Regions from separate parts of the Homo sapiens genome. Here regions 2 and 3 are each linked to region 1. The links come from fine-mapping of genetic effects on plasma protein levels. A gene starts in region 1. Each other region holds a variant in brackets. All regions are shown on one strand. Distances are from middle to middle. Region 1 holds the start of GPC5 (glypican 5). Region 2 overlaps GPC5 (glypican 5). Region 3 has its middle 22 kb from the start of GPC5.

Region 1 (2,765 bases):
AGGGTTCAAATTTGAGATGAAATTCCTTAAAGTGGTTAAAGCATTCATTGTCCCCTCTGCCTGATGCTTTTAACTAGTTTATTTTACAGAAGGAGTACTCTCTTCAAGTGGCTGTAGATTGAGACACTCTTACAGGCTTAGTTGTTGAGTCAACCACATTTAAAAAATGCACCTGCCCTTTGGTTTATGGTGCGTAATGCATTCCTCTCATAAACTGTAAATTGACAAAATTCCTTTGCCATTTTAAAATTGCTTAAAGTATTTATTTTTCTATATTCCTTGTAAGGAACTCCCCTGAGCACTCTTAACTTAATTGCTCTCTGAAAAATATTTTAAAGAAATTCCAGAAGTGGTAAAGCTCAGAGGAGCCCCACAAATACAAAGTGCTGAAGTAAAATATGATGCTAAATGGTGATAAGAGACTTAAAACTAGATTTCATTGTGATAAGAATGTGATAAAGTTTGATTGTAATTCTTATACCTCCTTTCAGAAAATCATGTTATAGAAAAATGTTCCTAAGCAGTAAAACAAAGCCATTTTAAAAAATAACTTCTCATGTGCACTCTTTAACAACCTAAGTGTTATGAAGTCTCTCAATTGAGATCTTTAACCGTAAATAGTTTTTGCCTTTTGTATTATGTCCAGATCCTATTTAATGCAATTAGAATACAAATTCCTATGTACTGAGGACCTTGATTACATAGATGAGATATTTCTTAGTTCCAGTTGGTGTTTCTCATCTCTTGTCTTCTCTGACCCTATTTATACATTCTCTGTTTTTATCAGATGATTCTTCCCCAGAACGGACTGGGAGAGCGAGGTCCGGGTTTCCTTCTATTTATTTGCATCGATGTCGCTCCGAGTCTTCAGCACTGGGCCGCGTATGACAGCATCTTAGTGGGTGCGGAGCGGGACAGCGCGCCGGGGGCGTGGCAGGGGCGTGGCCTGTCCGCGGGGCGGGGAGTGCGGGGCGGGGCTTCCGCGGAGCGCAGCGAGCGGGCACATCCCAGGTTAGCTGCTGCGAGCCGAGCCGGGCGGCGGAGGCGGCGGCGGCGGCGGCAGTGGCGGCAGTGGCGGCAGTGGCGGCAGCGGCAGCAGTTGCAGCAGTGGTGGCCAGAGCGGATGCTTGCGGGCTCCCTGCGGCTCCACTAGTTTTCTTCGCCCCGCCCAGCCGCCCACTCTTCTCGGCTAGGGAAGAAGACCAGAGGGTGCTCAGCTGGAAAACTCTGGTGTCTCAGCTTAGGGCCTCCTCCGGGAAGAGCTAACTGCTCCCAGGTGAAGCCGGTGCCCGCGGGCGGTCCGTACACCCCGCAGCCGGCTCGCACCGCTCGAGAGCCTCGGCCGCTGTGTCTTCCACGTCTGCAGCTCAGCCAGGGCGCGCAGGGCGAGTGGGGTCCACTGGCGGGTAAAGGGGACCAGGACGGCGAGGATGGACGCACAGACCTGGCCCGTGGGCTTTCGCTGCCTCCTCCTTCTGGCCCTGGTTGGGTCCGCCCGCAGCGAGGGCGTGCAGACCTGCGAAGAAGTTCGGAAACTTTTCCAGTGGCGGCTGCTGGGAGCTGTCAGGGGGCTGCCGGATTCGCCGCGGGCAGGTAAGGGGCAATGAGGGGGTCTCTGGACTGGCGGCGTCCGAGCCCGGCCTTCGCTCCCCCAGGCTCCCTTGGTGGCACTCGTGGGAAGATGACCTTTCGGGCCCTGCAGCCGCGCAGGGTGAATCCCGGGGAGGCTTCCGGGGATGCTTGGTGCGGGTAGCCTGAGTGCAGCGCAGCGCAGCTCTGGGGACCCCTAACCAAGCCTGCGACGAATCCCCGTTCTGGGCATCTGCTTCCCGCCCGGCTCCCTTCGTCTTGGAGGATGAGTTGGAAGGAACCAGGAAAGCAGACATCAGGGCGTGGGGGACACGCAGTCTAACTCCGTTTCTCTTCCGAGTAGGAATTTCCCCAGTGCCCCACCGGGGATTTCGGTTTACTGCTTTCTCATAAGGTGGAGGGAATTGAATTGATCGCCCCAAGTTTGGTACTAAAAATCACAAACCTGCGATATACCCCTTTGCTGGAGAATGGGGCACAGACAAGGGCAGCCGGTCTCCTCTGTAATTAGGACTTGGACCCTGTGCACCCAGAGACGTGACCCTTAGCTGCCCTTCTGTGCCCTCGTATCAAGCCCTGCTTGGAGGAAACCCAACCACCCAGTGTGTCTCCCAGCACCAAGGTAGTTTTTAGCCTGAAAAGTGTTAGGGCAACAGGCGATCAAACCGAACGTACTGGGGAGTCACTTGACATGGATGAGATGTACCAGCGTTCCAAAGGGAAAGATACAGTTTGTGTGGCCAGCGTGGATCTTGCTTCCTGTGAGCGCCTTTTGCCTGTGCTTTCGAACCCTGCTCCCCGTTTCCACCGCACCAATTTCCTTCTGCTGGTGGGAGTTCCAGTGTAGGTTCTGTCTGGAAGAATAGGTCATAGCTGTCAAACGCAATAGCAGGTGTCTAGAGCTAAGTAAGATCTCACTAGAGCCATGCACCCCTTTAGCTGTGACTATGAAGCCAACACAGACGAATCTGTGAGGTTACTGGTTGAACAAAGAACTTGTGGAGGACGCTTAAGTCTAAAGTCCCGAGTTTCCAGGGTTGGGGGACTTGCTTGTAGCAATGAGGAAGTGTGAGCTGTAGCCGCTTTTCTTGATTGCTTTGCTCAATTTTAAGTCATCCCAGAAAGAAAATCTAGGCATTCGGGAACACTGACTCCATTTGAGTTTACATGACCAG
Region 2 (2,765 bases), 370 kb after region 1:
ACAGGGAATGCTACTAGGCTGGAAATTCTGCAAGGAACCTGCCAGAAGTTGCAGTCTTGAGTCCAAAGGTGGTCTGAAGGTAGAATTCCATCCTCTTCTGGGGACCTTAGTATCTCCTAAGGCTTTCAATTGATTGAATGAGGACCACCAACATTATGGAGGCTAAGATGCTTTACTCCAAGTCTACTGGTTTAAGTATTAATAACATCTAAAAAATACATTCACAGCAACGTGTAGACTGCTACTTGACCAAACCCACTGGGTACTACAGCTTAGCCAAGTTGCCATATAAAACTAATTATCACAGGTAGTATTTTAGGTGAGGAATGAGATGGCAAGCCTGTGCTCTCATGAAGCTAATGCCATAGAAGTTGGGTTAAGGGCATGTTAGATTGAGTATCCAGGAAAACCTTCTCTGGGGAAATCACATTTAGGCTGAATATGTGGAAAGATCTGAATTTTCCAAGTAGAGAGAATATCATGCTTCATGTGTCTAAGGAACAGAAGGGAAATCAGCGTGTGTGGCTCAGGGTGATGCAGATGATGCTGGAGGATTGTCTGGAATGAGACTGTAGCTTGGGCAAGTGTCAGGTCAAATAAGCCCGGGAAGAAGCTTGGATTTTATTCTATGTGCTTTGAGAAGTCATTGGTGGTTTCCACCTGGGATGGGGGTGGGGAGAATCTGTTTTCCTCTGTATTCACACTCAACACAGAACAATTCTGTGACCAGAAGTGTGGGAGTTTCTCCCACACCAAGCAACTGTCCAGTTCTCTTTGAACACCAACTGTATGTCGTATAATTCAACTGAATTACCACACTAACCTGAGTTACCACAGACCTCACATGTTAAGGGCTTAGTCCCACAAGATGCCCCCCACTTTAGATGCCACTCACAAGTAGTAGGTCCCCAGATTATGCACAACTTCCATATGACTTGGCTACACATTGGAGATTCTCATGAGTCCCTTCTTGGGTTTTATCATTTGCTAGAATGGCTCACAGGACTCAGAGAAACACTTTACCTGTGTTTACTCTTTTATTATAAAGGATGCAATTCATGAACAGCCAAAGGGAATAAATACACTGGGCAAGCAATGGAAGAAGGAATGTGGAGCTTGCAGGTCCTCTCTGGGCATGCCATCCTCCCAGCATTTTCATATGTTCAGCAACCTGGAAGCTCTCAGAACACCCTACTTTTGGGATTTATATTCAGGCTTCATCATGTAGACATGATCAATCAATCATTGAGTATTAATCCATCATCAACTGATTAACTCCATTCCCAGCCCCTCTCCTCTCTGGAGAATGGAAAGTCAACCTGAAAATTCCAAGCTTCTAATCATGGTTTGGTTTTTCTGGTGACCAGCCCCCATCCAAGAGGCCATCAGAAATTATCTCATTAGAAAAAAAGATGCTCCTATCACCCAGGAAACTCCAGAGGATTTAGGAGGAATGTGTTAGATGCTTGCTCCTATCACTCAGGAAATTACAAAGGTCTTAGACACTATGTGTCAGGAAATGGGGTCAAGGACCAAATATTAGACCTGAAAATTATCCCAGTCGCCGCTTTAGGAGCTCTGGTTCAAAGACTGGG[G/T]AGACTGTGTGTTTGTGTGTGTGTGTGTGTGTGTGTGTGTGTGTGTGTATGCATATGCATATTTCTTATTTCACACAAGCAAAGATTTATATAATTTGAATGCTTTATGAAGGGTAAATGTGAATATAAAGTTTGAGGGAAAACAAACATCTTATTTCAAATTGGCCAATTTTTGTGTGGTATACATGAGAGGGAGAATAAAAAAGAGAACAAAACCAGAAACATACCTGTAAAAAATAAAAACTTATTATTCATAGTGAATGAAAGTCTGTCATGTTTGTGTTATCTGGAAAATATAAATCTTCTTTGCAGAGAAATGCATACCATAAAGAAACTACAAACACATAACCACACTGAGAATAAAGCGTATACAACTTTTCTCACAAAAGGTCACCCTGCCACTAAATGAATGAATACTTCCTCAAATGAATTAGGAAAATGCCAAAAATCTGATAGAAAATTAGGCAAAGTGCATGAATAGATAATTTACAGAACATAACAGTGACTTTTAAACAAAGAAACAAAATTCTCACCCTCAATGTTAAAAATCAAATAAATACAAATCAAATAACTATTTTTTCACTTATATTTGCAAAGATCATTAAATTTGATAATTCATAGCATTGACCAGCAGGTAGAGAAAAAGGTATTTCAACATCCCAATAGAGGGGAAGCTATTCTTGCGTCTTTGAAGGGTAACTGGGCAACATGTATCAATATTGCAAATACACATGACCTTTGAATCATCTATTTCATCCATGTAAACAAAAGAGCATGAATTGCACATATTTTATGCTAGCACAAGGTAGAACAACCAAAATCTCCATTAATAAGGAAATAATTAAATGGTTATGGCAGACTAAAATGAAGAATATAATTTTGATTTTTATAAAGAAGGAGATAGCCTTACAGCTAGTGATATGAAAATGCTACAGAAGAAGAGGGTTAAAGGACATGTGTAGGAGGAAAAGTTGATTGATTATATTTCTATGTGCTTCCGTAATTTTTTTACCAAGTCCTTTTAGTTGTTTTCCGAAAAAGGAAAAAATTAAAAATATAATGATTCATAAAAATGTTATAATAGAATCATCATATATTTTTACAAAATACAGAAAGATATGATATCTTACTTCAGAACAATAGAAATGCCAGTGCATTTCAAATAAAATA
Region 3 (2,765 bases), 22 kb before region 1:
GAGATAAAAGGGATGAGGCTTCTGCTTGATTCTCTTAAGGTGGAACCAAGCCACCATGCGCTGAGGAAGCTAAGTATCCACATGAAGAACCCGTGTGCTAGGATTCTGGTCATGACCGCAGCAGAGGTCCTACTGAGAGTCAGCATCAACTAAATGTTAATAACTGAGCCTTCAGATGATGCCAGCCATCAGTTTTCAAGCTGTTTCAGCTAACTCCAACAGGAGCATGGATAACGTGTCCCCACCAAGCCCTGCCCAAATTGCACATTTATGAACAGAATGAATGTCATTGATTTAAGTCACTAGTTTTAGAGTAGCCTGTGACTCAACAATAGATAACCAGAACACAGGAGGGTTAAACTTACAATTTAGTCAACCTTTGCCACACATGACAAGTCACATGCTCATCAGAATAAGAAAAATGTGCTTCTCTAGAGATCCTGGACATACAGTTTTACAGAGTAGCTGGATTTGATTTTGTGTTGCTGGCCTCTGGGGAAGTGTAAGCACATTTTCAGTTATAAGTGGGATAATGGTATTTACTATATTAGGAAGAGGAAATGTGGGAATTGTTTGTGCGTGTCTAAAATGATGCTAAAACTGGATCTTTCCTGTCTCCGTTCTGACAGAGCCATCAGTGATCAATATCAGGATATCTTAATGAGAGCAGATGATCCCAACTTCATGTTCATGCATTCAACATGGAGTGCCTATTACATGACACTTGTTAGTCCATGTGCTGAGGATGGAGCAATAAACAAACCTGTTTAAGCTTTCTGCCCTCATGAAGCTGACATATGCAGAATTAGAAAGAAAAGGGCTCTACTGAGTAAAATTGGTTAAGTGATTTTACTGGACAGAGTTGTTATTATGTATATTGGCCAGAAGAGGCCAGGTAACAAATATGCACAGACGGTACAGAAGTGGGACATGTGTAGGATGTCATGGATCTTGTCTAATAAGAGCCAAGAAACCTCAGCAGAAAAAAACGAAGATAGCAGCCAGGTGCAGTGGTTTACACCTGGGATCCAGTGCGTTGGGAGGCCAAGGCAGGAGGATTGCTTGAGGCTAGGAGTTCAAGGCCTGCCTGGGCAACACAGCAAGTCCCTCTTTCTACAAAAAAAGAAAAAGAATGAAGATGAACACATATAGGCCTAAAGTTATTGAAACTGGCAGAAGACAATGTGAAATAGACATCTGCCTGAACAGGGCACTGTAGGAGACAGTCTGTCATGGACTCCCTGAAGAGAAAAAGGGTGAAGGCAGAGAGCTGAGGGACACACCCTCTTTCCTCCCACTTCTCCTCACCTTGGCTTCCCTATGGCATACCTCCGGAGAGAGAGGCTCCAAGCTTAGGATAAAAGAACTTTTGATGATAAATCAAGTTTGAAATTGTGTTTAATATTTTATACTGGACATTCCAATTTTTAAGTCAAAACTGTGTTTACCATTAACTGAAGAACTTTTTATTTTCTGAGTAACCACAAAAATCATGGGCCT[G/GC]CCCAAGTATTCTTTCAGGATAAGGGAAGAAAACCTAAACTGATTACATTTAAACCAGGGTACAAGATGCAACTTAATCTTCCCTGTGATCACAGTCCTTGTGTTGTGCTTGCTTTGGGAGGCCAAGGCGGGCGGATCAGTAGATCAGGAGATCGAGACCATCCTGGCTAACATGGTGAAACCCCATCTCTACTAAAAATACAAAAAAATTAGCTGGGCGTGGTGGCGGGCGCCTGTAGTCCCAGGTATTCGGGAGGCTGAGGCAGGAGAATGGCGTGAACCCGGGAGGTGGAGCTTGCAGTGAGCCGAGATTGCACCACTGCACTCCAGCCTGGGAGACAAAGCGAGACTCCGTCTCAAAAAAAAAAAAAGGGTGTGTTTTTCCTAGGTAGACTGTGGATACATCTGTACTTTTCCTACTTGATTTCTGGTAAGAGAACTCCATTTAAATGTGGGGAATGAGTGAGACAGACAGAGATCATCCCAATCATCTCTGGTCATGACAGTGGATATCTGACCAGTCTGAGTGAGAATGATGGGTAGTGGCATAAGCATTTGACACAAGAATTCATGAGACTCTGCTTCCACAACTGTTGGGGAAGTGTTAGGTCTTTCAGTTGAGGTTCCTGAGCTGTGAGTGGTCATGTTTTCCACAATGTGGAGATGGCAGAGGAGTTTACATGTAGAAAAAACCAGAGTCAAGCAGACCAATAGTGAGCCTCAACATGGACAAAACCAGGAGCAGACTGCACTATTAATATGTTTTCATCCTGTTGTAAGTTGGAAAAATAACAATAACTAAAATTAATTTAAATTTAAAATATGCAAATATTATAATTTGATTATGCTTAAGTACATACACATGACTGAATTCAACTAAACTATTTTAATAAAATTTAATGACTGTTTGTAGAATGACAATTTCAAATAAGGTACTTGGAAAGACAATATAATACTTTTTTTGTTATCGTTCCTATTAGTTTTTTTTTTTAAGAAAAGGGGTTAAATTGGCTCACGGTTTTGCAGGCTTTACAGAAATCATGGCACCAACATCTGCTCCACTTCTGGGGAGGCCTCAGGAAGCTTACATCACAGTGGAAGGCAAAGGGTGAGACTATTAGCAGAAAGTTTTGATATTTATATAAATATAAAAGGATGTTCAATTTGTTTGAGATATATGGCAAATCTCCTTGAGATACCAAAATGGTAAACAGGTACTCAATCATTTTGGAATGGTTGATAATTTTACTTAGCTAAATATAAAA

What was found. PIP is the chance, under the fine-mapping model, that this variant and not a neighbour inherited with it causes the effect. Sun 2018 read protein levels with aptamers (SomaScan).
Region 2: its variant is fine-mapped to the plasma level of the GPC5 protein (Sun 2018, PIP 0.95).
Region 3: its variant is fine-mapped to the plasma level of the GPC5 protein (Sun 2018, PIP 0.95).

What each region holds. Positions count from the first base shown.
Region 1 is chr13:91,397,617-91,400,381 of GRCh38, forward strand. GPC5 (glypican 5) reads left to right here and starts at 1,005. Exons shown (of 8, transcript NM_004466.6): 1 at 1,005-1,593. The coding sequence starts at 1,431. RefSeq lists silencers at 819-1,113, 820-1,089.
Region 2 is chr13:91,769,097-91,771,861 of GRCh38, forward strand. All of the region lies in intron 5 of GPC5 (glypican 5), which reads left to right. Among named protein-coding and RNA genes, the nearest start is that of GPC5, 370 kb to the left of the region's middle. The variant G/T (reference allele first, on the strand shown) is at 1,596.
Region 3 is chr13:91,375,599-91,378,363 of GRCh38, forward strand. No RefSeq gene overlaps it. Among named protein-coding and RNA genes, the nearest start is that of GPC5, 22 kb to the right of the region's middle. The variant G/GC (reference allele first, on the strand shown) is at 1,501.